Regions from separate parts of the Homo sapiens genome. Here regions 1 and 2 are each linked to region 3. Evidence: fine-mapped expression QTL. A gene starts in region 3. Each other region holds a variant in brackets. All regions are shown on one strand. Distances are from middle to middle.

Region 1 (10,150 bases), 190 kb after region 3:
GCTGCTTCTTGTGAATAGGAAGTGAACAACCCTGGATTCCAGGCCAGGGGGAGAGAGGTGAGAGGTGAGGTCAGCACATCTGGTTTCTGCCCTCAGACTTCTTTACAGATGAGGGAAAGGTGCGTGCTTTAAAAGGACAGTTAAGCGGGCCCCAACAGAGCCCAAGAGATCTCGGCTGTCCCCTACCTGGGGGATGTCAGGCTTCTTCAGCATCAAGCTGGAAGAGGCTCCCAGGACTGGTGTGGAAGGACAGAGCAGTTTTCCCATGTGATGGGGAACTTGTTTCAGAGGTGTCAAGAGATCCACACTAAACCTGGTGCTGTAAACTCTAGCTGGTTCTCAACTGAAGTTTTTGGGGGATGGGGAAGAAGGGTGATTTCTAGGATAGAGGAAATATGCTGTTGGTTGAATATAGGATTGTACTTCTCTGGATATGTCTTGGAAAATTTCCTTAGGTTTTGGAAGCCTCAGAACCCTCCAGAGTTTCAATTTCAGAGGCTAAGACTTAGAGGGTCCCAACAAGAAATATAAACAGTACGGTCTGCTGGTGATAAAAACAATGGCGGTAGTGAGGAGAGGAGGATATTGAGGGAAATGTTTCTTCTTGGCTCATGATAGTTCCTTTCTGTGAAAGGGTGCAATTGACAGAAACAGTGGGGGCTTCACCTGTGGCATCACTGTCTCTACCCTAGCAAGGAGGAGGGACTTATCTGGTTGGAAAATTTCAGAAGAAAAACTAGCTCCTCCTTTTTGTCCTCTCAGATATGAACTCATCAGCAGAAATGTGAGTTCTTCCCAGCTTCTCCGTGCTGTAAGTCTTATGTGGCACCACTGCCTGGGTTGGTTGTGTTAACCTACCTGCCAGAGGGTGGCGGGTGGGAGTATCTGAAGCCATTGAATCCTGCAAATACAAACCACAGCTTCCATCCTAGTCTTTATCTGTCATACAGGTTAGAGTTGCACTTTCCAATCTGCAACTCTTATGTCTTGTTTCTCTGTGAAGAATGCGGGTGTGGATGGGCATATTTATTGTGTCCCTGTGATAATTTTATGTGTCAACTTGGTGAGGGTATGGCACCTAGTTGTTTCATCAAATGCCAGTCTACATGTTGCTATGAAAATATTTTAGATGTGATTAACATTTAAATCAGTTGACTTTAAGTAGAGCATATTTGTGTCCACAATGTGGGTGGGCCTCATTCAATCAGTTGAAAGCTTTCAGAGCAAAGACTGAGATTTCCCAAGAAAGCAGCAATTCTGACTCAAGACTGCAACATACAAACCCTGCCCGAGTTGCCAGCCTACAGACTCAAGACTGCAACACCAACACAACTGAATTTCCAGCCTGCTAGCTTGCCCTACGGATGTAGACTGGTTAGCCCCCACAGTTGCATAAACTAATTCCTTGAACTAAGTCTCTCTCTCATATATGTCTCCTAATGGTTCTGTTTCTCAGAAGAACTCTGGCTTATACAGTCCCTCATGATCCCAGCACATAATGACTAATAACCGTGGCTGATATCATTGAGTCCTCATTTACTCCTCACAATTACTTACAAGGTAGGCAATAGCATTCCTTCCATTTTAAAGATGGGGGAACTTAGATGTGAAACAGTTAAGTAACTTGCTCAATGCTGTGAAACAAGTGGAGATGCAGCATTTGAATTCAAATTTTCCTGAAACCATAACTGATGTGTTTAACTATTATACCACACAGCCTCCAAACCAGAAAAGGAAGTCCTACTCAAAGTTATGATATAGTGCATAGTTAAGTGCATAGAAAGTCTTTGTCTGTTAGTCTTATGCTGAGTGTCTATATTTTGAGTGCCTCTCTGTTTCAGTGCTGGATGAAATAATTACATGTTAAAGCTGATAGTAATAACCCAATGGTTACTTCTCTGGCCAGCCTCATTGGTGCTTCAGCGCTTAGCTTGGGATGTGATCTATGGTTCTGAGTGTCCTTTTTGTATTTGTTACTCTAATATTTAGCATAATCAACAACTCCCAATGATGGCTATAGGGAGCACACATACAGCAAGGATAGTGGCATGAAGAAATAAAAGAATCATCACTGATAAAATTCACCTTTGAGGATTTATTCATACATTAATCTATCTCTTCATGCATTTATCTGATAGTCAACCAGAAAGGTTTATTGAGAAGTTATTCTGTGCATGTATTTTTATTTCATTCATTCATTTAATCAGAAATGAAATTCTTATTACATACTCTGCCTTGCTAGGTGGATTCTCCCAAATTCACCCTCATTTTCACACCCTGCCTTCAACTTCTCTCCCGCCTACCTCTTGGAAATGTACCTAACTTGTTTCTATTCCTTCAGAGCCCTGCTCTATATTTTCCATGACGATATTTAATTTGATAAACTAATACAGAGAAATGGATTAATGGAACTGAATGGCATAACGGTTAACACATACTCACTGTAAGTGAGATTTCCTAAAAGCACATCATCTTGATGCAGAAGCAATAACTTTTATGATGGATGCTTTAGGCAATATATTATGGGTAGTTTTGGTCTGATGAGGCTTCCCGGTGACATGTTGAGGGTAGCACTACCATTTTGTGAGAAGCCAGCAATGTGTCCTCTTGCATGACATTTTACTTGTTCATAGGATGGTTTTGCCATAAAATAAAAAGAACCAAATAAGCATTTGCATTAAGCAACTATTTATGTAAGATAAGGACAATGATCGAAAGAGGCCAACAGACTTCAAAGTGTCTCCTCTCTGGTTTCATAAAAATATTACTTTACTCGTGTGACAGAGACTGAAGCTGCCTAATCAATAGCCATATTCCTGAACCAACATTTTGGTTAGGATGTAATTCCCACCAATATTTTGGCTAGGATGTCTAGCTAAAATACTACATTTTCCACTCTCCATGTATATAGCTAGTAGGGTGTTTCTTTTAGGAAGGTTCTACAAATAATGCTGACTCAGCTAAGAGGTGTTTGCCTTTTGTTTTTCCCTCTTGTTCCTGCCCGGAAAGCAGACATAAAGGCTGTAGCTTCAGCAGCCATTTTGGAACATGAAGCAACGTTAAGAATTGAAGACACATAATAGTATTGTAGAGTGTAAAGATAGGGAGAGTTTGGGTCCTTGGTGAGTAGGGAATTATTCCCTCCATATTGGACTATCTATGTCCAGAATTCTTTGATGTAAAGAAGATATACATTTCTGCCTCATTTCAACTACTTCAATTTTTATTTCCATGTATGTGTTCTATGCACCTGAATCTAATGGCAATTAACACATCCCCCAAGTTTATCATTAAAATCTATGAACTATATTATTCCAGTGATAATGTTTCATTAATGGAGCCAGTCTGGTATCTTGAGTTTATTCACAGCTAACTGTTCTGCCTGGTTCGTGTGAATGGAAAAGAAGTTTCTGTACATTTTGAGTCACGGCTCCACGTCTCTTCTTTTGAACATGTATCCTTCATTTTCTTTGTTGTCTTATTATTGCTACTCATGGACTGTTCAACGTACTTTTTTAAAATTATTATTATACTTTAAGTTTTAGGGTACATGTGCACAATGTGCAGGTTAGTTACATATGTATACATGTGCCATGCTGGTGTGCTGCACCCACTAACTCGTCATTTAGCATTAGGTATATCTCCTAATGCTATCCCTCCCCCCTCCCCCCACCCCACAATGTACTTTTAAAGAAGTTACCGTCCAGATAATGTAACTTTCACTTTAAGTGAAAAGCTGCTCACTCATTCTCTTCCTTCCTCTTCCTCCCCCTGTCTCCCCAGCTCCCAAATTTGAGTAAAATTATGCCCAGTGTAATTTATTGTGATTTTCCCCCTTCTTCTAAACAATATCTGTGTTAGAGAATTGAACACCTGTAAAACATTTGTTATTCTCACTTGTCCTAATCAGGAATTCAATAAAAAGGCATTCTGAAATCTTGGAAATACTGAGGTTTTTCTGAACTTAAACTGATCTGTTAAACCAGTTAGTTGAGCAAGGCCGGAAGAGCCCTCAGGAAAAATCATGAAAACGAAATTAAATCGAACACAAAAAGCAATTTGCCAGCGGTGAATTTAATTCACAATTTGCCTCCTCTGGAGAAGAGTATTCAGCCTTGGCCACATGCCAATGAGAGCTCCATGCGATAATCTATAGGATTGCACA[G/A]TTCCTCTTAGGACAGTAATGAAAGGAAAAATAACATTTGTTCTGCCAAAGTATGTGGACTTGCTGACATTTGCTGAAATACAGATATCATCTGAGTGAACAGGATGTTTTCCTGAAGGTGCTTTGGAGAGCCAGTAGTTTACACATCTTTTCCACACATACATAAGGCAGCTTGAATTTCTGGTAATTGTGAGGGCTTGACCCTTGCAACTATTTCCAATATACCCCTGGTGGCTTTTGGACTTTGTCAAGATCATCTGATGATATACACAACCTGGTGAGAAACTTGCCTTTGTGATTTTCAGTAATGTTTGTCTATTTCTCCCGACTCCTCGTTGGAATGATGATTTAAGGGAGATAGAATCTGGAATTACTGGTGGGGAGGGGAGTTAGCAGACTTTAAATCAAGTGTACCTGTCATTTAAATTGCTTGATTCTAGATTGAACAAAGGAAACATGCTGGGAAAGTCTGGGGGAAAATATGCTACATTTTATATTCTCTGATGGAGCAAATGGGGGGAGATTTTAAAAGGATGGAGATTAACACCTATTCACATTGGATACTTTCATGGCAGAAGGCTCCAGGGATGGATTTGTAGAAGGCGAAATACATGAAACTTGACAGCTAATGGCAAGTCTGAATAGTCTTGCCTAGATGATATGCTGTATTTCAGGTATTTCTGGGCATTTCATTGTTGGGAGAGTCAGATCTAAAGTAGGCTTTGAGGGATGAAAAGGAGATGGTTTCCAGCTAAGAATACAGTAGACGTTGAATATAATTAAGGTGAAACAGAGATGAGTGGTACTAAACATATGATAAAAGCATCTCAGGATGAAATATGATGAATCACTCAGAAGCAGAGAATATGAGCAGAGATGGACAAATTATTCAGTAACACAGTCAATAAGGACTTGGCCAACAGGCATCAAAATATTAGAGGGTCAAAAAATAATCTTAAGGAATTAGAATATGTGTTTTGGTAATATCTATTCCATATATTTTAGGGATAGATACATGGGTGTGTATGTATTCCATTACGCATGTGGGAAATTATGACTGACAATACAACTGCAGGAGTTTTCATGTAAAGATAGATTAGATTTGATAGCTTCAAATTCATTTTTAATAATTGTTTTATTCATTAATAAATAGAAGGACCCAATTTAGACTCCTTATTTTTAGTATTACAGGGAAAACAGTAGCCCTCTCTAATATGGCAACAAGTGTTTAAAGATCGTGTATAGCTGGGGGTGGGGTCAGTTGTAGGGAAAGAAATGATAAGTAATTGAAAATATTGTGCTAGAAAGGGCCTTTGATATTACAATGATGTAAAGTCTGAAGAGTTAAACTGGAATGTAGCAGTCACACAGCCAAGTCTGAGTGGGTAGTTTGGTTAGTGCAGTTGCCATTGAATCCAATCTAATAGTCATCAAATGAAGTCCAATTCAGATTGATGAATACAAGTATGATGCTTACTGTGTACCACGTACTGTGCTAGTTGTTGTGAAGTCAAAACTGAATGTTAGAGCACCTGTTTCTAAGAAACTTAGAGTCCACTGAAGGCACAGGGAAGACATGGAAGATGTTATAAATAGTAAACTGTGGAAAGTGACAGGGCAGAATGTATGTAAGGAGACATATACATTTGTAGAACATGTACGAGGTACAGAAATAACATCATAAGAGAACAGTAACATTGTCTTGTGAGTATGACTTTTCTTAGGTTGAGGGAGTGAAGAAAATGGGAAATTTTAGGAAAGAATTTCCACCTGAGCTTTTTAAACATGAAAAGGAGCAAGTCAGAGACATTCAAGGATGGTGATATGGTTTGGCTGTGTCCCTACCCAAATCTCATGTTGAATTGTAGCTCCAATAATTCCCACATGTCATGGGAGGGACCCAGTGGCAGGTAATTGAATAATGGAGGCGGGTCTTTCCTGTGCTGTTCTTATGATTGTGAATAAGTCTCATGGGATCTGATGGTTTTATAAAGAGGAGTTCCCCCTGCACAAGCTCTCTTGCTTGCTGCCATGTAAGATGTGCCTATGTTCCTCCTTTGCCCTCCACCATGATCGTGAGGGTTCCCCAGCCATGCGGAACTGTGAGTCCATTAAATCTCTTTTCTTTATAAATTACCCAGTCTCAGGTATGTCTTTATTAGCAATGTGAGAATGGACTAACACAGATGGACAGCAGGAAAATAACTGGAGAATACTGATTTAAACATTTGCTTTCTTCAAGGAATGAAAATAGAGCCAGATCATCCATTCATTTCTCTTCCAGATCCAGTATTAAGAATCTAGAATTTCATGGCTCTGATGCCAATTTTGGTTTTGCATATTCATCTTGTTCATTTCGCCATTTTTGATAGAATTGAACTGAAAAATGCATCCGATGCTAAAAGTTTGAAAGAACTTTTGAGATAATCTTTGACTTCCTTATATCATTTATTCATTTACTTTGAAAAATATTATTGAGAATCTACTCTGTTCCGGGCTGTTGGGCACTATTTTAGACACTTAGAATACATCAAGAAAGAAACTGATGTCCTTGCTCTCTTGGAGCTTATGCTTTAAGAGGGAGAGACAGACAATAACTGAAACACATCAGAAATATGTGAATATTACAGTTTGTCAAAAGGCAATAAATGCCAAGGGAAAAAAATTGAGCATGCTATATGTGGGTGGATATATGTCCCAGCTTGCCCAAGGCAGGCTTAGTTTATTTCTGTGGTGCCAGCATAACTATTAGCAGCATCCCCTTTAGCTCTAAAACACATCCTGGTTTACTTTAGATGCTATATAAATTCATAACTGCAGTTAATGGGAATCAGGTGTGTATGTGTGCACATTCCGGGCCCCATACAATAATTGAACATGCTGATCCAGCTAAGTCTCACTGAGGAGGGACTTGAGCAAAGACTTGAAGAAAGTGAGAGAGTGAGCCACACAGGTATCTCAGTGAAGATTGCTCCAGTCGGAGAAGCAGAGGAACAATTAGGGCAAGGTTCTAAAGTTTTAAGGAATGCGGGGCTGGGGGTGTGTAGTTGGGGGTTCATGCAGCTAGAGTGAATTAATGAGGGGCAAGCTGTAGGAGATGAGGTCAGGGAAGGTAGGGGTAGGGAGCAGAGAGTGTAGAACCTTAGGTCATCAGAAGGGAGTTGAGTTTTTCTCCGAGTCTGATGGGAAGGCATTGGGGGTTTCTATATGGCAAGTACATAATCTGACTTTGTTTTAAAAGTATCACTTTGTGGAGTCTATTCTTTGTGAAGTATACACTTTAAGGTGTAAAAGTCAAGGCAGATTTTATAAGTAGGAGGCCCCACAGTACACTAAGCAAGAGATGCTCATGGCTTGGAACAGGGTGGTGGCACTGGAAGAGGTGAGAAGCAGTCAGATTCTGGACATGTTACCAGCCAACAGAATTTCCTGCTGGACAGGATATGAGGGGATGAGCTCCTCATATCTTGCAGCAGTAACAAAAGATTCATTCCAGGACTAGTTCAACAAACAATTTGGTGTTTTGTTTTAACTGAGCACTTCAAAAAGCAGCACTTCTCTCACCTTGCTTCAAAGCCATGCCTCCTGTATTAGTCTGTTTTCATGCCGCTGATAAAGACATACCCAAGACTCGGCAATTTACAAAAGAAAGAAGTTCATTGGATTTACATTTCCACTTGGCGAAGGTGAAAGGCACATCTCACGTGGCGACAGACAAGAGAGCTTATGCAGGGCAACTCCCATTTTTAAAACCATCAGGTCTTGTGAGACTCATTCACTATCATGAGATCAGCACAGGAAAGACCTGCCCCCATAATTTAACTACTTCCCACCAGGTTCCTCCCATGACACGTGGGAATTCAAGATGAGATTTGAGTGGGGACACAGCAAAACCATATCACCTCACTTTTCAAAGCATTGGCAAAATGATGAACCCCATTAAAATTTAGTTGCATACATAGCTGCTTCTGTAAAAATATTTCCAATGTGGATAGTTTTGGTGAATTGCAATGTGGTGTATGTAAGAAAGAGAGCATTTTGCTAAACATGGGACTTTCCAAACAGTAGCAAATAGGTAATGAATGTGTTTAATGATACGTTTACATTTCGACATGTTGGAAAGTGTTGATGGTGGGGCATCCACATAGTAAGTAGAGGCCAGGGTCTGCAGCTCTGCCTGTGTGGCTAACTGTGTGACTCTCATCACATCCCTCGACCCTCTGAGATGAATACCATTTGTTTTAAATGGAGCATTTTATTGTGATTACAGTTCTATGTTTTTGTGTTTACTGTGCTTTCAGCTCTGACATTCTGTGACTCTGAGCACCTTAGGGGAACAAAGCTACAGATAGACATTTAGGATCTTGAGCTCTCATAGCACTTTGTGAGATTGTTATGGTTATCTCAATCCTCTTATTTGCATATTCTTGCAAATTGCAGTCTAGGACTGATATCTTTTCTAACAACGCGTTATTCCCATGGGCCATAATTTAGAGAGGCCCTTATCATGCTGATTAAGAAGACAGGCATATTTTTAAATTGGATAAAATAGTGCCTTCATCTTAGGAATATTGTGTCATTGTATAAAAAATAAGAGTGATAATTAGTAACAATTATTATAACCAATGTTTGAAAATTTACTATGAGTAAGGTATCTTACGTGGAATCTTTTATTTAATTCTAAGCACAAAACAAACAAGACCCTATGGGTAGGTACTCTTCATATTCATTTTAGAGATAAGAAAGCAGAGCCAGAGAACTGAATACCTTTCCCAAAGTAAGAAAATTTGCGAGTGGCAGTGTTAGGATTTGAACCCAGGCAGTTGGCCTCCAGACCATGCACCATCCCAACCACCCTACTTTAATCCTGTCAGTGCACAGAGAGGGTTAGCCCAGCATCTGACAATAGTGAGAACTCAACAAATGGAAACTATTGTGATGCCATGTATTATTGCAGTGAAAATTCAATACCTGCTGGGTAACCAGTGAATCTGTGAATCATCTACACTGAGGCACTGAGGTGATAATTGAAATCAGGAAGAAATGAGCTCATGCAGGGGAGAGGGCAGAGAAGGGTTGAGGACTGAAATTTGGAGGATGAATAACCATATACCCTAATGCACGCTTGGATGATGTTCAACCTTGAAGTGACTATTCTTATAACCTGCAGCAGAAACAAATGTTTCCTTCCAGGTCTGGTTGAGTGACTCTTGGATTTTGGTTCTAACTCTTTAAAACTGTTTCTCCGACTCTGCTTCAAAGCTATGTCTTCCCTTTCAAAACATTTGCAAAATAATAAATCCTATGTCCAAAGAGTCTATTGAAGTTTAGTTGCAAACATAACGACTTCTGTCTGGTAAAGATTAACAATGTTTCTGATATGGATAGTTCTGATTAATTGCTGTTGAAACTCCTGAGCTGAATGTCAAAGCTGGAAAATGAACTCTTAAATGCACTCAAAAGACAAGAGCCCCGTGTATCCTTGAACATAATCCAATCAAAGAGATTGCAAAGGAAAACACAAGAGACAGTATTAAATTCATGGTGACATGAAAGTTTCTTGTTCCATTTTTGAAAAATCACCAGGTCATTGTTCACAAAGAGACTTTTCTTTGATATTGACCTGCCTGATAAGTAAAAAAAACATCTTTTTAAAACATTATTCTTGACTTCTCTCGTTAAACATGTATTAGTCCTACAAAACTCTGGTTTGCAAATCCTGATGTTCAAAGTCATTTTAAAAGAACTAAGGGGAAAGGAAAACTCAGTCAAGCAAATAGAAGTGCTTAATTGTCTATAATGTGGATTTTTAGATAAGGGGAGTATTAGTTGGTAATGTCCATCAGTGAATTGGCATCCTATCAAGGCCTGGCGTTTGACCTTTTTAGAGCTGTCTCCAAGGAATGACAGGGCACAGGGCATTTCTGCCATATGAGTTTTACTGGATGGTAATATTATATCTAAAAAGCTGGATGGCCTTGGACA
Region 2 (10,150 bases), 110 kb before region 3:
GTAAGAGATTAACAATAAAATAGACCAATTAAAACAATATACTGTAATAAAAGTTATATATGCATGTGGTCTCTTTCTCAAAATACCTTATGATAGGTACTATACTCATCTATTTTCAGACCATGGTTGACCACAAGCAGCTGAAACCTTGGACAGAGAAACCGTGGCTGGGGGGACCACTGAAATACTCTACAGTTCTGACATGAAAATATGAAGGAAAAATATTCAGATATCGCTTTTAACATATACAAAGGGAGAAAACAAAACACTGAAGGCAGAGGCGGCAAAATGTTACCAGTGGCTACTTTTTTATGGCAGAAATATGGTGACTTCATTTCTCTTTCATGCTTTTCTCTATTTTTCACCCCTCTCTTACCCCCAGTAAAAAACAATTAAGCAAGCCTGTAACCCATCGTGGTCTCTGACACTCTCACCATCAGGGAAAGTGAAGTCTACTGAAGAAGGCTCCCGCCAACCCAAAAACAGAAAGGCCCAAGCAGGAAGCGGGACGACTCTCTTAGCCCTTTGTTGTCCATGCTAGAAAAAAGATCATCCTTTATAAAACGCCTCTACTCCAGCCCTGGGTGTCGGCTGGGCCCCCCGTCTGCATCCTCTAGAGCTGGGTTTCCAGGGGGTGAACGTGGTGGGATTTCACATGTGGTTTTGCTTGTGCATTTGGACATTCTTTGTGGGGCAAGCTTTTCCCTTCTTATTTTCTGACTGCTCCTAGAGAAGATGATTTGCTGCACGCCTCCCCCTACAATCCCAACCCGGAGCCAATGAGGGGAACAGATCTGGGGATGGAGGCAGATAATGGCAGCATTTCTCACTGCCCTAAAGTACCGTCCACCACGCCAGCAGACAAAGCGGGGCATGTTGTAAAAAGCAGTTCTGCTGGCAAACGGCTAACAAATCCATGTATTTGCAACCAAGGACTGGCGGCCGCATCTAAAACAGACACCTCATTGTGCTTGGTTTAAAAGGAGCCCTTGGAAGTAGGGCCTTTCAGGCTGACAGTTAAATCACAACGGCCCATATTTACATGAACGGCTTCCAACCGTCTGGGCGAATACACAATATTTCCATTTCACAGAAACCAGGGATGGTGACAACACAGAAGCCAGAGAGACCAGAAAGTAAACTTCTGATTGGTACGAATGTGTTTAAGCAGCAGAGCCTATACACTTATACACTTGCAGAAGTTAACGCGCTCCTTTGGTAAGCAAGTTTGTTATTGTTGTTAATTCCATGACAAATGTAACAGCTCAGCATACACACACCTAGGTGTCTCAAGAAGGCTTTCTACTCATTTAATCAAGTGTGTTCCTGTGAGTGCTTTCAGTTGCTCTGGCATTAGCAGGGAAGCTGCGTGATTCTTCAGTTCTGATTAAAAGCTAGGAGAGCACAACTTTGTAAGCCCATCACAGCAGCGAACCGTTCCAAATTCAGACAGGAAACACCTGGAACTCTGTGCACCACTAGGAACGCACTTTACATTTCAAAACAGATGATTCTAAATTGTTCATAAATATTTGTCTTGTTTCAATAAAACACTCTTCAACCAGTTTCATAAACCCTTGGTTCAGAAGGCTAAAACGTACACGCTACTAGGCATCCACATTCTTTTAACATTGCATATATTTATGTGGACAATATCCTGGAAACATAAAACCCAATGGCAGGCATTTAATAGCGTCATATGGGAATTTTAGTTGTTTTTTTTCTTTTTTTTTTCCGGGGAGAAGGACAACTCTCTCCTTCCATAAATAAAGCCCAAATTGCACTTGTTGTCTAAAAAAAGTGAACTGAAATATAAATTAAACTCAAGTTTCTTTAACTTGCCTGTTATAGTAAATAAGACCCAGACAAACCCTTCTGGAGGCTTAGAAAAGCTTTAATATAATTGATTATTAAACCTCCAGCTATAGGATAGAGTCATACTGAAGGCCTTGTAGCCAAACATTCCCTCATTCTTGAACATGATGAGCCCTTTAAAATGTTTTTAAAAGCTGTTTTTAAAAAGACACTAAAATGAAAAGTAGCTTAGTTTATAGGTTGAAAATTAATCTTTAAAAGCCATTTCTGTACATTTTTAGTATTGTCCAGATTTTCTACCATACACATGGACTTGTATTGCTTTCATTTATTTTAATGTATACTTTGATCATTAGAAAAAATGAAAATGATTTACACACACACACAAAGAAGAAAGAATCGGGTACCAAGGGCCAGTTCCCAGGTGCTGAGATAGGGTGTTGCGGAGGCTGCAGCCACAGCCTCAAACCCAAGCCAGCCTGCCAGGGCACTCTGAATCTAGCCCACGGACCTCCAAAGTCGAAAACAGGGCAACCCAGGCTTCCCAAGAGTTAAATGGGAAAGTGGGTCACTTCGAAGTACTGTCCAAAGATTGCTACGAGTGAGCTGCTGTTCATAGTCATCGTCTTCTTTTTAAACAGTTATAATTAAAAATTCATCAACTGACCATAAACTTCTTACTCTGGTCTAACTAAGAAACATCAGCACACTGCTCCCGGTAAATGAAGATTAGGCATGGCGGTGATAAGAGACTGCATAGAGGCTCTTCGGAACCATAAAAGATGGTCGTTAGAGGTAATGATAAACTAATTCTGGATACATCAGGCAGCAGATGCTCAGCCCTAGGTTAATGATTAACGTGCTGGACCCTGGCCAGTTAAGAAGTTGTTTAACCAATGCCCCTGAGAAGCAAACTTGTTAACATTCACTTGTTCCTAACTACAGCCACTGTTTTCTCTCTCTACACTAACTACACTGCAAGTAAGTTTTCATCTTTCCCTGCCTCAAACCAAGAATTTAACATGGAGGTCCAGAACTAAGACCTAAGCATAAAGCTCATTCAATTTTCTCAGACTTTTGAACCTTTACTGAACCAACCAAAGAAATATTACTCTCCCACTAGACTAAAATATTCTGACCCACAGTTGAATGGTAATTGGTAATAGCTTAGTTTGTTGTTCTTGGATGAATTTTTATTGCACCCGAAAAGAGACACCCACAAAATTTAAGTGCATTGATGAAATTATACTTCAGAGATGACAAAATAGAAGAATCTTATTTGTTTCTATATACAAGGTTTCTATGTCCTTCTAGTTGGTACATTCACAGATAGGATATTTAAGGGTCAGGCTGCCACTGTCAAACAAAATAAAACCATTTAGAGACATTTAATCTAATTTTAGGAACAATGCATTTTAGGAAGGTGATTAGTAATGCAAATGTAAAATTACCCTTGGTTGGGATAAGCAAGACAAACAAAGGATACTTAGAAGTACTTGTGTTGTCTTCAGGATTAGGGAATGCTGCTTTGATCATGTTGAAAGGAAGATAGAAAAAAGATTGAAAAGCTGGGTCTCTAAGGTAGGAGGTCTGGGATCTGTTTATTCTACTTAGTTCAAGTTGGAATTGATGCTGTTAAACATGTGAGATGACCCTAAACTACTCTTCAGGGTTAAGGCAGGTCTGAGGCAGATGGATGAATTACGCAAATGGACTATAATGTGTAATCTGTGCATGTGTGTAACAATAAAATACAGTTCTATCAAGATTTTGGTTGAGAAAAGTTAATGATAAAAGGGCTGGGCTGGAAGACTGGGTCGAGGAAGGAGAGTGATACTTAGGGTTTACTCACATCTTATCTAGGCAACTTTTCTGGTCTTGATTTGGGCTTTAAGGGCCATGAATACACAAATATACTTAAATTCCTACATTTCCAGTATATATGATGTAAGAAATTTCAACCAATTGGTCTGAATCTTCTATATTTTGCACTTCTCATCAGGCACCTAGCCAACGGTTGAGGGCTGATCTTCTGACTTGGCTTTCCTGGTTGACCAGTGCTGGTTCTATAACCCAATTAACTATCAGAATTCCAAGCAATGAACTAAGCTTGCTGGTTTCATCCTGGCAGAAATGAACACAATCTTGAGCTAAAATTGTACAGTTGTAGTCCAACAATAATGGCAGATACAAAGGCTATGTTCCCGGTACAAAGACAAGCATTTCACCTGCATAATCTCATTTAGCACTTAACAATTCTGTACCGGAGATATTATCTATAAACCCATTTTACAGACGAGTAAACAAACTCAGCTAGATTACAAAGTGAGAAAGCGATGGAAGCCACATCTAAATCTAGCATACCTGATTGTAAAACAAAATCCCCCTATACTGTTTTCTAACATGAATAACCACTCCACCCCAGTACTTTACCCCTACAGATTCATTGGTGGTATAGAAACAAAGGACTCCAAGGACACAAAAGCCTAGGTGTCCTTTTCTGACTAGGTAATTGGGTGAGAGCCTCCTTTTCCACCAACAATCAGCCCTTTTTTTTTTTTTTTTTTTTTTGAGATGGAGTCTTGCTCTCACCCAGGCTGGAATGCAGTGGCGCGATCTCGGCTCACTGCAAGCTCCGCCTCCCAGGTTTACACCATTCTCCTGCCTCAGCCTCCGAAGTAGCTGGGACTACAGGCACCCGCTACCATGCCCAGCTAATTTTTTTGTATTTTTAATAGAGATGGGGTTTCACCATGTTAGCCAGGATGGTCTCGATCTCCTGACCTCGTGATCTGCCTGCCTCGGCCTCCCAAAGTGCTGGGATTACAGGCGTGAGCCACCACGCCCGGCCCAATCAGCCCTTCTTAAACACCTAGAAATAAATGTGCTTCTCTCCCAACTCCAAAAAGTTCCTATAAGGAAATGACCTCATCCACCCGTTACAGAATCTCTATTTCAAATTTAACTCCACCCAATATTTTTTAAAGATCGATTTCCACAGAAAAGCAGAGCCCAGGATATATCTAGATCATACTCTGGAAATCAGCTCTCAGCTCCATTTTTTCCTTTCCAAAAGCATAGCTCTGGACAATTATATTGCAGAGAGGAAATCAAGACTTAAAGCTAAATTTAGTTATCTATAACTGTTAGAACCATTTTCACATGGATTTCAATCAAATTTTAATTTAAGTAAATAATGCATGGGTGAAAAGTCCTTTTAAAAAGTACAAAATAAAAGCAGGACAAACCAGGCCTATGCACATACCTAAAACAACAGTCCCCAAAGTTTAACTACTGCTCATTTTTAATGTATCCTTTCAGATAAAAGCATATACCAGTATAGAGATCTCATTTTAAGAAATAACTTCTATAAATGCTTGCCACAAAGTTTGTAGATCTGTCTAACTGAGCGTTTGGAGCTCTACTTCATTCTTTTTAATAGGGCTTCCTGCCGTATAGATGTATTGTTATTTAACATTTATCTTGTTTCTAATTTGGGAGGAAGGGATATATTGTTGTGGTGGGTTTCCATTGCATAATGTTACAAGTAGCATTCTTGTGTGCATGTATGTGTGCCTGTATACATACATATCTTGGCACACTCTTTTGTGATTACATCCACAGTATAGATTATGGAATTTATAAGCCAGACAGAATGAACATTTTAATTTTAATAGATATTGCCAAAAGCTGCACCAATGTAAACTCTCACCAACAGTTTATGAGTGCTTATGTCAACACACCCATCAATGTTGCCTATTATCCAACTGTTACATCTCTGCCAACATCATTTGGTTGTGTATTTTCTTAATTATGAATGAAGTTGAGTACCTTTTCACATGTCTATTGATTATATTCTTATCTTGCTTTTCTATTGGGTAGTGTGTCTTTTTCCTTGACATGTAGAAACACGTTAAGAAAGGAGAAAATTAGCCCTTCATCTCCTCTTGCTAGTTTGTTATGTTTTTTGCCATACATAAGTTTTAAATTTTTATATAGTCAAATGACCAATCTTTTTCTTTATGGTTTCTGGGTAGGCTGGATAAAAAATAGATTTAGATTCAGACCTATAAATAGGCATCCATGAAAAATGTAAAAACAACCCTGGCCAAAATTATCCTCAAGTTCTGACATTTAAAACAAACACTCCAGAAAACGTTTACACTTGTT[ACAGGACACGGAGTC/A]CTGGACACCTGCCCAAACCTTCTACAGATCCATTTATGGTCTTGGTCTGGTGCTGGCTGTGCTCATGTGCCTATGGAATGGGCTATGAGGAGCCTTTCGGGTCAAAGCAAACACTACACACAATGGAAAATGAGGACAAGTTGCTGTGCTCGGTTATCACAGCCATGCTGAAGTTTTGGTGGCCCCTCCTCAATCCCAGTAACCCAAATTCCATCACGAAAGGGAGAATACAAAGTGCTTATTTCACTTCCCATCTGGGGCATGTTGAAACAGTCCAAACATCTGAAAGGAGGTGTGTGTGTGCGTTTACCCTATCACAGGTGGCCACATGTGGAAGGATAGAAAGGTGATACAGTGGAAAGATCCACATTTAAATTCTGGATCCTCCATTTCCTAGCCCTGTGACTTTGGCTAACTTAGTTAACCTGTATAATTTATATGTGTGACTAACTTTTGGCAAGTTATAATACAATTCAGAACAAATCACAGTTTCTTTTAAATTTATAATCCTAGTTTGCCAAGGATTTTCCAAACAGGTCTTCTTTCTATGTGAAAAAAGCTATGCTGGTCATGTTTCTATGTGAAAGAGCTCTCAACAAAACATTGCATAATTATCGAGAGCTCTTTGGCACCTAAAATTTACTTATAGAAGAACAGATACTAGGTAAACAAAAGCCCTCAAAGTTAACGTCACAGCGAGGCTTAGGCCCCAAAGGATGCTAAGAGATTCTTTAAAAGGCTGAATGAAATGTACACAAGAGAATATTCTCAAAATGGCAGGGAGGAAACTACAGGATATTTGTAGAATCTATAGCAATGGCAATCAAAATATTCAGTATGCCATATAATTGAATCCATATCTGTAATTTACACATCTGCTTTGAAAATGGCTTCACATTTCACAAGCAAGACGATGTAGAGTTTCTGTAATGTATAATACTTTGGTAATATGTTTTGTGCACCAAAATATTTTCCAGCATCAAAATTATAAATGGTTAAGACAAAAACAGCTGACCTCACATGCACGACTAAAATAAGTTTCTTTGATGTGGGATACCATACAGATAGGGCAATTATAACTGTTATGTCTTTCAGGTCAAAGCAAAGAATACACATAACTGGAGATGAAAAGAGTATGGCCATCCTCAAAAAATTAAAAATAGAATTACCATATGATTCAGCAACTCCACTTGTGGGTATATACCCAAAAGAATGGAAAGCAGGGTCTTGAAGAGATATTTGGATGCCCACATTCATAGTGGTGTTATTCACAATAGCCAAAAGGTAGAAGCAACCCAAGTGTTCATTTAGTGGATGAATGGATAAACAAAATGTGATATACAATGCCATATTATTTAGCCTTAAAAAGAAAGGAAATTCTGATACATGCTATGACATGGAAGAATGTTGAGGACCTTACACTAAGTGAAATTAGCCAGTCATAAAAAGACAAATCCTGTATGATACCACCTATGTGGTATCTAGAGTAGTCAAATTCAAGAGGCAGGAAGGAGAATGGTGGTTGCCATGGGCTGGGGGAAGGAAAAATAGGTAATTATCGTTTAACAGATACAGTTTTGGTTTGAGATGATAAAAAAGTTCAGGAGATGGATAATGGTAAAGGTTGTACAATAACATGAATGCACTTAATGCCACTGAATTGTACACTTAAAAATGGTTAAGGTGGTACATTTTATGTTATTTATATTTTACCACAATAATTTTTTTAAAACTTAAAAAAAAAGACTGAGGTATACCTACTTTCTCAGTTTGCTTGGGCTGCTATAACATAATACCATAGTCTGGGTGGCTTATAAACAACAGACATTTATTTTCATAGTTCCAGAGGCTGAGAACTCCAAGATCAAGGCACTGGAAGATTTAGTGTCTAGTGAGGGCCTGCTTCCCAGTTCATAGATGTTGCCTTCCGTCTTCACATGGTGGAAAGGACTATGCAATTCTCTGGGGCCTCCTTTATAATCACTAATCCCATTCATGAAGGCAGAGGTGTCATGGCCTAATCACCTCCCCCAATCCCCACGTCCTAACACCATCACCGTGAAGATGGGGTTTCAACCCATGAATGTTGTGGGAGCACAAATATCCAGCCCATAGCACCTATGTAGTGAGGTTCCCTGAGGAGACAAGTGACGTACTTAAGATGAATCAGGTCTAATTGCAAAGTGGGTGCAGAGGGCAGAATGTGCTTGGAAGAGGTGCAGTGAGTTCAGGAAACTTCCCTCCACAGCCACAGCCCTCATGAGACCACCTCGAAGGGAGAGACCCCAACCTCACTTATCTACTTCACTCTGATCTCCTCCCACTGGCCACACCCACCTGGAAGCCAGGGAGCACTGGCTGATGGAGTCCCTTGGGCAGAAAGTAGGGTGGGAAAGAGTGGCTGTGAAGAGCAAGGAGACTGAGCAAAATCTATACACGCCAGCGTAAAGAGGAGGCCAGAGCATACAGCTGAATGAAAAACAGCAAGCTGTGGAACAGGAGGTTCAGTATGATGTGATTCATGGTAAGAGGAGGGGGAAATGCCAGCACGAAGGCTATTTTCTACCAGCAAACTCAGAATAGAGTCTAAAAGCGATATATACCAAACTGACAAGAGTGTTAACTTCTGGGGCAAAGATGAGAGAAAGAAGGAACTTTAGACTAATCTGTACTGTTTCAAGTTCTTCCACAAGGAATGTGTTTATGGGCTTCATGGAGAGTTCAATATTAATTTAAAAAGAGTAAGTGGGATCATTAATTGTTTCTATAAAATGGAGATACCCCCAGCTTTTGCAAAATTGGGTTAGGCAGCCCATGTCCAGGCATGTCCTGGAAGCCCTAAGTGAGTAAAGAGTCGTAACAGAAAAAACATCAAGTTACGTCAAGCTATGGCTATGCCAGTGGTTCTCAAAGTGTGTTCCCCAGAACAGTAGCATCACATCACCCGGGAATGTGATAGGAGGGCAGATTTTTATACCTGACCCCAGAACTACTGACTCAGAAACCTTGGGATTATCTACCAGGGAGAGGGTCATATGTGATGTGGTGGGACAGGAGTCTAAGGCCAAGCACTGCTAGACCTTACTGGCCAGAGCTGCCATAGACAGCAGTACAGGCTGTACAATGCTCCTGCAGCTGTAGGAGGTGTTATTCACATAGACTATGATGAGAATGGCGTTCCTTGGGGGTGGCGCACTGCAAAACCTGCATCCCATCCATACCTGTCAGCCCTTAAAGCAGGGGGGAACACAGAAGAGTTTTAAGCAGGCAGATGACATCATCAGGTTTGCATATGGAAAGACACCCCTGGCACTCTGCTTAGAGAAGAAAGAGGTAACAGAGAGCTATATCAAACTGCTTTGTCTCCTATATATCTTTGGGGCTGCTAATTAGCTATATCAAGAGTAAACTAGGCCAGGTGTGGTGGCTCACACCTGTAATACCAGCACTTTTGGGAGGCTGAGGTGGGAGGGCTGTTTGATCCCAGAAGTTCAAGAGGAGCCTGGGCAACATGGTGAGGCCTTGTCTCTATTAAAAATGAAAAAATAGCTGGGTGTGGTGGCGTGTGCCTGTGGTCCCAGCAACTTTGGAGGCTGAGGCAGGAGGAACGCTTGAGCCCGGGAAGCTAAGGCTGCAGTGAGCCGAGATCCCACCACTGCATGTTCCCGCCCAGCCAACAGAGCAAGACCCTGTGACAACGACAACAACAACAACAAGAGTGAACTAAAGTAAAAGACTCTTTGAATAGAATCCAAGTTGTCTTTACAGCCCAACCCTGAATCAAGGCCTCCAGATACTTGGGTCTCAATTAGCAGAGGGGCGGGAAAAGGAAAAAGGAGGACAATGAAAGACTCCCAGGTCCTACATTACATGCGTGTCTGTACACACACAAGCACACACACACAGAAAAAAATGAAAGCAGGGGTAGGGGGAGCAGGGGCAAGCAGGTGTTGATAAGGAAGAGGTGAGCCCCTTGGGGAGGTAGTTTGAGGAAGAAACCTGAAGCTAGGGGGCAGGTCTCACTGGCAATACTGATTCAAAAGCCATCAGCACCCAGATGGTAATACAACTACAAGCAAGGATAACATCACTCAAGGTGCGTGTAAACACTGGAAAATCAGTGGGCTGAGGCCAGAGCCCCGGAGAACCT
Region 3 (10,150 bases):
CTCAGGGGCACATGCATCGACTCTCAGAGACATGAGAAGCTGAAAGAAGAGGATGAAGGGGAGAAGAATCCAGGCAGGTGGAAGCCGGTAGGATCCAGAGCATGTTGGACCTTATAGCCAACCAAGAGAAATGGGACAGCATAGGAGGCTTGAGGGAGAGTGATAAAAGATACACATTTATAAGAGATTAATTCCTGATGCTAGGTAAAGAAGGAATTGAAGAGGAGCAAGAAGATTTGTAGAGGAAAGAGTTATGGTCCAGGCAAGAGTGTCTGAGACAAAGGCCAATTTTGCCCCTCAAGGGACGTTTGGCAATGTCCACAAATACTGTTGATACTACTTGGAAAGCGCTACTAGCCTCTAGTAGGTAGGTAGGTAGATGCCCGGGATGTTGCTAAACATCCTACAATGCACAGGTCAGCCTCCCACCCCCATCACCACTACCACCACCACCAACAACACACCCACACCCAAGAATTATCCATTCCAAAATGTTGGCAGTGCTGATTCAGAAACTCTGGTTTGGACCACGGTGGTCATTTGAGTGAGCTGGAGAGCTGTGAATAGATTCAAAATGTATTTAGGAGGTAAAATCCGCAGGATTCAAAGACAGACCGGATGGGAGGTTAAAGAACAAAAGGTATCGAGGATGTATCTCAAGTTTTTCAATCAATCCAAGGAAAGTTATGTCCAGAATTGTTCCTTTCCCAGAAAGAAAAGCAAAAAAGATGTTTGCTCTGGAGTGCTTTTGCTCTAAGAATCAGGGGGTAAGTCAGGATGGGAAACTGAGGCTGGGAGCAGAACTCTTTAACTCACTCAAGTGTAGCAATCCCAAGTCTGCTGCAGCTCAGATGTGGCCTCAGTGAGATCAGAGATGCCTGTCTAGGCTATGATTACCTGTCATTTAACTGCTAGGCAGTCTGGGTTTTTTTTGTTTTTTTTTTTTTGAGACGGAGTCTTGCTCTTTCACCCAGGCCGGAGTGCAGTGGCACTATCTCCGCTTACTGCAAGCTCCGCTTCCCAGGTTCACGCCATTCTCCTGCCTCAGCCTCCCGAGTAGCTGGGACTACAGGTGCCCGCCACCGCGCCCAGCTAATTTTTTGTATTTTTAGTAGAGACGGGGTTTCACCGTGTTAGCCAGGATGGTCTCGATCTCCTGATCTCGTGATCCGCCTGCCTCGGCCTCCCAAAGTGCTGGGATTACAGGCGTGAGCCACTGAGCCCGGCCTAGGCAGTCTGGGTTTTAAAATTTTATCCTGGTCTTAAGAAATTTAGGAAGGTGTTTAGACAATGACCAGTGAAACCATAACTGTGTGAAGACCAATACATGTTTGGTCTATATCTACCTGAGCGTAAGCTCTTCGTCTAGCTTAGCGGCTACTTAAAGGACCAGCATCATCTGGGAGCTCATTGGAAATGCAGAATATCAGGCCCCTGGCCAGCCCTAATGGATCAGAATCTCTAGGGGTGAGACTGAGGAATCTGTGTTAAGCTCTCCAGTGACTCCAATCACGCTAAGGCTTGAGAATCCTTAATATAGCTCACATGGTAGAACAGAAGAGACAACGTCTATGCTGGTACAGCACTAACAAACCCTAAGCGTTCAGCAGGTGTCAAAAAAACTGAAACCTAAGATAATTTAAAGAATGCCACATCATTTGTGCAAGTTCTAGGCTGCTGAAGAGCTGGTACTGAAAATCTGAGTGTTTCTAATCTCCTTCAGCTTATAACAGAGAAGCAAACATTAGGGCTTATTTTAAAAAGAAAATAAAAATGTTGCACATGAGAGTTTCCAGGACATATAAATCCTTCTGCCTTTTAGAAGAGAATAAACAGTACCCAGCAGGAGCAGAGAGCCGGCCCAATGAAATAAACAAGTTCTTAAACAGCTTCCAATGGGAGGAGTTTTATGGTTGACCCAGGAACAGCAAAAGCGTTCAGTAAGGGCCACTGAGGGTTAATTTCGGGGCAAGGAGAGACAGCAAGCTTCCCTAAGGCCTCAGCTGAGGCCAGGCTGGGTCTGAGGCCAGGGAAACTATCTAGGGCAGCTTCTGGGCCAGACCATCCTTTGCTGTTCTCAAGGCTGGCACTGAGGTTGGTAAAAGTTCCAAGCAGGGCTCCAACACCGGAACAAACCTTTCTCCGTAAGTTCAAAATCAACATCTTGTCTCTAAGCTTAACATCCTTCTTTATGCTACCCACTAACTCAACAGAGCCTCAAAAACATCCACAGTTTTGATTCAAGTATCATATTTTTGACTCTGAGGGAGATTTTACCCAAACACTCCAGAAAGAAAACAGAAAGTTAAGAAGAAATAATAAACTAGCTCAACAATAAATGATGCATAAACTCTGGGGCAGTGAATGGCTTATTTATAAATAAGCGTCACTTAAAACGACGAAGGAAGTCCAGATGACAGCATAAACAGCAGAAACTCGGGAACTCCTTCACCCTAAATCTGGCGCCTGATTGAAGACCAAGCTTTGCCCTCTGTTTTGGTGATTCGAAGGCTCACACCAGTCTTTTGTGTGCCTGTGAGGTCCTGGGCAAGCTGTGGAGCTGTAAATATTTGCCCTTCGCCCAGAGCTGGCCAGCTGCTGAGACTGCAGCTGACAGACAGGCCAGGGGCCAGGAAGGGGGGCCAGGTCGGAAAACTTGCAGGCCTGGTGTGCACGTAAGGAAAGGGGGCTGGGAGAGGGCAGAGAGAGGCAAAGCAGACACAGGCCCTTGGGGGAGCCTCGGGCAAATATTTTCCCCTTTCTGCCACACCATCTGGAGCAGGCAACCAGAGCGGTGGCAGCAGGCCCAGGCCCCTCCCCAGGAAGGCAGAAGTACCCAGCTGTTGAAAATGTGGCTTCTGCAATCAGGGAAACCAGTGGTTCTCAACCTGGGCGACTTTGCCCCTCCAGAGGACACTTGACAATATTTGGATTGTCACGACTTGGGAGGGAGGCCAAGAATGCTGCTAAACATCCTACAATGCACAGCACAGTACCTCCCCTCCCAACTAAGAGTTATGGGGCCCAAAATGCCAATATGCCCCAAAACTGAGAACTCTGAGGTAGAATCTGAGTCCGGCTCTGCTCCCTGAGTCACTACTTAATTTTGGACAAGTTATATAACTTCTCTGAGTCTGTTCCCTCATCTCAAAGGACAACATAGGTAATGCATGTAAAGTACTTCCTATTGTTGGTGGCACTTAATAAACACTCAATAAATGGTCCTTGTGGTTGCACTGAGGAGCAACATGATAGTTTATAGAACGTGGGCTGGAAAGATGGGCACGCAAAGGTTCAACATGCAGCTTTGCACCCAAAAGCTGTGACCCAGGCATGAAACTGCCCCTTAATGAGCCTCAGTTTTTTCATCTACTAAGTGGGAAGGGTCACACCAACCTCACTTGATTAAAAAGGAAATGACTGGGAAGAATGCAGCACCCAGCCTGGAGCAAAGTAAACCCTCGCTCAAGGGGACCGCTCAGGTGGAGATGTTAAAAATAATTCTAGGTAACACTTGTTGAGCATTTATTTACTCTCTGCCAGGCACAGTACGAGGCCCTTCTACTAAACTCTCTCCCTGAAGCCTGACAAAAACCTTTCGCACTGAGGGAAACTGAGGGATCTGGGAATTAAGCCAGAAGCTCACCCAGCTGGTCAGCAAAAAGCCCAGATTTGAAAACAGTTTTAACTCCAGAGGACTCACACTTAATTATTACTTTATACTTGTTGGGGGCAGAGTGCTCCTTTAATTCTTTCTGAAATCCCTGGATGAATACCTCAGGGGTGCCTGGCTGTGTTTTTACTCTGTATACCACGTCTCTAGGGACCATAGTTTCCAACTTTAGAGAGGTTAAGCAGCTTGCTCAAGGTCAGCCAGCTAGTTGGCTGCAAAGCCCACGCTTGCATCCAGCTTTTACCCCAGAGGCCTCTCTTCTGATATCCTTCTTAACTTAATCTACACTGGCTGTGGGTTCCCTTTATTTTTTTTTCTGGAATCCTAGAGGATGCACGGATACAATTCACCCAATGTGTCCATCTCTCCTCTCCTAAGTGTCAGTCTATAGGTTTCTGACCTCTAGAGGGTAAGCAACTTGCCCGAGATCCCCTAGCTGGTCTGAGCAGCAAAGCCTTTGAACGCAGTTTTGACTCTGGAGCTGCATTCTTCATTCTTATCCTACACTTGCTTGTGAATTCTTTTTCGTCCTTCCAGAATCCCTGAAGCTGTACAGCTATACTTTACCGGTTACGTCTAGACTATAAAGGACCACAGTGTTCCACCTCAGGCAGGTTCAGCGACCTGCAAGTAGTGATACAGCTGGTAAGCAGTGGAAGAAGAGGGAGGAAGCAAGGATGTTCCCGGGAAGCTCGGGGCATCCCTGTACCCAAAGGGATGGGGCGGGGCCCTGGGTCCCCAGGGATCCTGGCTGGAGGTCGGGGCGGGCAGCAGGCGCCTACCTTGCCGCCGGGCGGCGCGGCCACGCAGCGGCTGAGCGAGTCGAGGCGCGCGCTGTATTCGGTGAATTTCTTCTGGTAGCGCAGCGCGGTCATCTGCAGCTCAAGCTGCGCCGCGGCCAGCTGGGCCACCAGCGACTTCTCGCGCTTCCCAGCGCGCAGCGCCTCCTTCTTGAGCGCCTTGTGCAGCGCGCCCAGGCGGGCCTGGAGCGCGCCGTTGTGCGCCCGCAGCGCTCGCGCGCAGCAGTGGCCGCCCGCGCGCTGCTCGCCGTGCGTCAAGGGTAGCCCGCAGCCCTCCTGGCAGCGGCCCACTGGCCGCGCGTCGCAGGCGTCGCGCATGTGCGCCTCCACGTCGCGCCGCAGCAGCACCTGGCCGCAACCCGCGTGGCGACAGCGCGCGGGCGCGAAGTCGCAGCGCTCGAGGTGCTCCGGCAGCTGCTGCAGCTTGACCACCCGGCCGCAGCCGCGCGTCGCGTACGCGCACTTGATGTCCAGCTTGAGGATAAGGCGCTTGAGCGGCAGGACGTGGTTGAGCTCTTTGGCCGACAGGCGACCGCGGCAGCGCGCCGGGCAGCTGCCCTCCTGCACCACCCAGGGCAGCACGCAGCCGGCGCAGAAGACGTGGCCGCACGGCGTGGTCAGCGGGTCCTCCAGGACCTTGTGGCACAGCGCGCACTTCAGGTCCGGGTCCACGTCGCCGTCGAAGCGGTCCAGCTCGAAGCCCATGGTGGCGGCCAGGCCCCGGGGTCGCCGCCGGGCGGCCGGGCGCCCCCTCCCTCCCCACGAGGCGGCCCAGACAGGCCGGCTACGCCGCCCGCGCGCTCGCTGGCTCTCCCCGGACTGAGCCTAATTGATCCAGACTTCCTCGGAAAATGCCCGAGGAACAGGACTCCTCCGGCCGTATTTGCGCGAGCGCGAGCGCACATACATCGTGCCTTGGATGCCTCCCGCCAGCCCCCCGAAAAAGGGAGGAGGCTGGAAGGCAGAAGCGCGTGGGAGGACACTGAGGCTCGCCAGAAGGGACGGGCCAGCCCAGGACGCCAGCCTGAATCTTCTCGGGAAACTCCTTTCTGTTCTCTTACAGTCTACGCTATAGGAGACAAAACGCCAGCCGAGAAAAGCTCGCTGAGTTTGGAGCTGAGGCTACTGCTTTCTCCCAAGGGTTCTCTTCGAGCCCCTTCCCGAACGGATCAAAACTTTTTTACTCCCTTCTCCCTCCCCCTTCCTCTAGTGGCTGATTGCAGAGGACTAAAAATATCTTGGGGCCCGCTATCTCAGCACTTACGGTCTTTATTTATTTATTTCATTCCAGGGAAAGTTACAGAGCCTGCGGGAAGCTCCGGCTGCAACTTCAGTTCTGACCAGAGGTTCTGTGAACCTTCAGGATTTAGCAGGTTTCCAGGACCGGTGGGTGAATCTACCCGGGGAAGTTTTGGTGGACAAGAGCTGCTCGCCAGCTGTCGGAGTGGGAGAGGCCAGCGTGCTGGCTCCATCCACTTCACCTAACACCTCTGAAGTGTCTGCCCTGCAGTGTGGCAAGCGTGGTGCTGAGCGCTTCTAAATCCGTCGCTTTAAAGATCATTAGTACAATGTTGTGAGAGGGTTAGCTCCATTTGAAAATTATTTTCCCGTGATTACAAAAGAAGCGATGCTGACTGCAGAAGTTAGAACTGGGAGAAGACTCATCACCCCCATGATCATGTCAACAACTGCCCTCCTTCAGTTTTGGTTTGTTTTGTGTGTACACTCTGTCATCTTTCCATTGAGGAAACTCAGGCTAGAAGAAGGATAAAAACAAAACAGAAAACAAAACAAAACAAAAGTGCCCTGTAGGGTCCTGTAGGTCAGTGTTTCTCACATTTTAATGTGGTTGCGGTTCTGATACAGTGGGTCTGGGGCGGGTTCTGAGAATCTCCATACTGAAAGCACTTCCAAGTGATGCCAATGCTGCTAGTCCATGCTGGTCCTTGGATTCCCACTTGATTGGAAAACCCTGGCGATCCATAGATCTGGACATTCATTCCCTGCAGTACAGCAAACCTGGCTGGGTAGGATTCAGCAACAGTCCTGAGCAATGGAGGAATATTTTTGGAATTCCAAACTGGGTGTAAAGTTCATAGCATCATCCATTGATTTTATTTTATTTTATTTTTACCTCCCAAGGCTATAGACATTCCTAAGAAACACGCAGTCAGCTTTTGGTGAGAGTGGAATCAAGCTATGGAATTCTCATTTGGAATCTGCTTCCAGTTTCTGAACAGTGAAGCGGGAGAGTTCTGAACAGTAAAGCAGGAGCTCTGTATTCAGCGAGACTCTGGGGCCTGGAAAGTGGGATTACAGCATCCATTTTGTCTAATTGCTTTCCTTCTTTCTTTTATGTGGCTGCTAAAGCCCCATGACCTTCACTATTTAACTGCTTCATCAGAGTGAAAGAATTGCCTTGATGTTCATAAGGATTACTTGTTTCACACTGACCTTTAAAAAGTTGTCACTCACTAGATTTTTCAGTGCATGGTTGAGGTCACTGGACAGTGTTCTTTAATCAGTTTTGGTGGCATTTGTTGCCTATTTGAGGTGGAGACTTTCTTTTAATTGCTTTAATCAATTAATGCATTGCTTTGATAGGATTCTGCATGGGGTGGAATATTATTGGCCTTTGTTCAGATAAGCTTGTGCCAGGGAATCCTCCATCAGTATATTCATTAAACTGCTCATGGGCTCTCAGATAATGGGTAGGAAACAAATTCTTTCACCAAAGGTGTGTGGGCTTGTCAGTTTCACAGAATGAGCTAGTGTCAACAGGGTGATAATCTTCAAACCAAACTGGTTTTGAGAAACAGAGAAGTTCTGTCCTACACCATAAATGTAAATTAGTGCTTACTTGGGGTGTACACTTTTTTGGAGATGTTCTACCACCCCTCGGGTGGTCTCCCAGATGGCAGATTGAGAGGTTGTTGCTGAAATGCTACAGCTGAGGCCACAGAGAAGCCATAGCCTACTGTGGATTGGCCTCTTTAGGCAAAAGGAAAGTCTGTGCCACTCCTCAATGGTTAATTTTAGTATCAAAATTCTTGGAGGTTAGAAAAAAAATCCTACAATGTCAGAGCTGGCAAGACTATTATTTCAGTCACCAAACTTAACAGGAGAAACGAGAGCCAAAAATATTAGGAAAAAGGAGTTGAGGGCAGAGTTACTCAACCTTGGTACTACTGACATTTTCATTCAAATAATTATTTGTTGTGGTGTGTGTGGGGGTGGGGGGTTGGTTATCGTCTGCATTGCAGGATATTTAGGAGCATCTCTGGCCACTATCCAATAGACATAGTAACAACCCCTTGTTGTGACAACCAGGTTGAGAACCACAGTTTTAAGGAAGCTTTCTGCTCATTACTGAAGTCAGGCAATGCTGTCAGCCCACATTTTCTGCTGGCTGTGGAACCACCTGGTGAATGCTGCACAGTGAGAGAGGGATGTTATTATAAATCGAAAACTCAAGGCACCATACCAATAAACATGAATAAAAACTGTAGGAAGATGAATGTTTGGTGTGGCAGGCCTCCTGAGAAAAGTAGCTGATTTTTCTGACATGGATTAGATACTTACTCAACCGTCCCAGAAACATCTGAGTGTTTATATATGGATGAATTCCTTGTGGACAGCTGGATTGGTCACTTTGCAAATTATTTTTGCGACTTCCACTACCTCTTGCTCTTACCCCTTCCTTTTATCATCTGATTCTGCACTTTCTAACCAAAATGTGGCCCCAAGCCTAATAAAAATACTATTTCTATATTCACCACGATCCCATTCTGATTTTAAACTCTGTTTTTAGTGTTCTTTCCATCAGCATGTTTAATCAGAAGTTGATAATAATATCTACCACTTTTTTGGGAACTGTTACTAGGTATCAGGCACTGTGCTCAGCACTTGACCTTCATTGTCTCATTAATCCTCACTGCACATAGAGAGGTAGATATGTTGTCCACCCTGTTTTACAGATGGAGAGACTGAGGTTTATAGAGGTTACATAAGATATCTAAGTAGGCGTAGGTACCTTATAAGGTTACATAAGGTATGCCTCCAGTCAGGGATGTCAACAGGAGAATTTCAGAACCCTCACTCTTAATCACCATAAGCATTATGCGTCTCCTCCATAAGCTCCAGCTCAGGAGGCACTCCCTTACAAATGATATGGATAAGAACTCCACCCCTCCATGTTTGCTGGTTATCAATCCTCAGCTGCTCGTAGGGTCTGGATAATTTGTGGCTTCAGTACTAGAAAAAACAAACAAAAAGAAAGTCAAGGGTTTTTACATTTGTTTTTTAAATTTTCTTCCCCAGGCGTACATATTTGTATTCTACTAGCTAAAATAGCACTATACAATTAGATAAGGATCTGCTTTTACCAAATGAAAGTACCACCAGAGCGTAATAAGGTACAGCAGTCATCCACAAAAACAAGTGTGAAACATTTCGGTCAGACTGCTTGCCTGTTAACATAGCCAATGTTAGCCATCCTGGAGCCTGACACATTCGTTTGGCCATGGGTTGAAAGGTAGGGAGAAGAGAAGGTAGTTCTCTATTCTGGAGACTTTTGAAGACTTTGGTAAGTCAGGATGAGTTATCACAGTAGGGACACTAGGCAGAAGAACAAGAATTGCGAAAATACTTCTTACAAATTTGAGCAAATTCTGGTCTGCAAAAGTCTGGCTCTCCTTTCCCAACTCTCCAGATGGGATTAGTTTCCACAGCCCCAAGCACATACCCTTGTATAACAATGATCACACTTGAAATGTCTTAATTTATCTAATAATTATTTAGTAGCTATTATATGCAAAGAAGAGGCTGTTCTTGCACTGGGGCTACAAAGGCTACCAAAAATAATAAGCAGTGTCCCTCCCCTCTTAAGCCTTCATTTCACGATAAGGAACAGCAGATATCAATAAATGAATAATAAATGAGATGATTATGGAATATGATAAGTTCCCTAATACAGTGCTGCTCAAAGTGTGGTCTGGGGACCAGAAACATGGGCATAACCTGGAAGCATGTTGAAAGTGCAGAATCTCAGGCCGCACCTTGGACCTACTGAATCAGAATCTGCCTTTTAGCAAGATCACCAAGTGATTTGTGTGCACTTAAAGTTTGAGAATCACTGCTGTCAACACCATAAAAGCAGCTTACATGCTGGAGAAAAATCAAAGGGGCCCATTTGAAATAGGGCTGTCTGGGGAGGGGAAGTGTGAGTTGTCGCTTGAAGGGTGAGACTGAGCCAGCAATAGCTGGGAGAAGAACAATCCAGGCAGAACAAGAGAAAGTGCTGAGGTTCGAAGCAAGCACATGGTCTATTTGAATTAGACAGAGTGTGCCTAGAACTTGGAGCAGAGTAAGCCGAGCGAAGAAGAATCAAACAAGGGTAAAAAGTAGGCGAGAACCAAATGGACACGGGCCTGCAGGACCTGTGGAGGAAAGAGATTGAATTGATTCTAGTGCTGATTGGCACTGAAGTATTTTGGGCAGCAGAGGAGCACAGCTTGATCAATGTCTAGTGTCCATGCCACATATTACACTCTATTATAGAGTAGGGCAATCGTGTTCACGTTCTGTCCCCCATGTTTAACACTTAGTAGAAACGTAATAAATATTGAACAAATAACTGTTCCCTCTTCCTGCTCCATGTAAGTTCCTGCTGCTCAGC

What was found. PIP is the estimated chance that this variant, and not a neighbour inherited with it, causes the effect.
Region 1: its variant is fine-mapped to the expression of PDZRN3 in lung (TOPMed, PIP above 0.99). The same link has a PIP of 0.9 or more in visceral fat.
Region 2: its variant is fine-mapped to the expression of PDZRN3 in tibial artery (GTEx, PIP above 0.99). The same link has a PIP of 0.9 or more in aorta and gastroesophageal junction.

Annotation. Positions count from the first base shown.
Region 1 is chr3:73,809,300-73,819,449 of GRCh38, forward strand. LINC02005 (long intergenic non-protein coding RNA 2005) reads left to right here. Exons shown (of 4, transcript NR_146637.1): 1 at 1-57; 2 at 763-811. Among named protein-coding and RNA genes, the nearest start is that of LINC02005, 5.1 kb to the left of the region's middle. The variant G/A (reference allele first, on the strand shown) is at 4,166.
Region 2 is chr3:73,510,810-73,520,959 of GRCh38, forward strand. The region is part of intron 3 of PDZRN3 (PDZ domain containing ring finger 3); the gene reads right to left. Among named protein-coding and RNA genes, the nearest start is that of PDZRN3-AS1, 110 kb to the right of the region's middle. The variant ACAGGACACGGAGTC/A (reference allele first, on the strand shown) is at 5,986.
Region 3 is chr3:73,619,648-73,629,797 of GRCh38, forward strand. It overlaps PDZRN3 (PDZ domain containing ring finger 3), which reads right to left and starts at 5,294. Exons shown (of 10, transcript NM_015009.3): 1 at 4,456-5,294. The coding sequence starts at 5,178. PDZRN3-AS1 (PDZRN3 antisense RNA 1) reads left to right here and starts at 3,921. Exons shown (of 2, transcript NR_046681.1): 1 at 3,921-4,318; 2 at 5,765-8,252. RefSeq lists an enhancer at 2,713-3,227.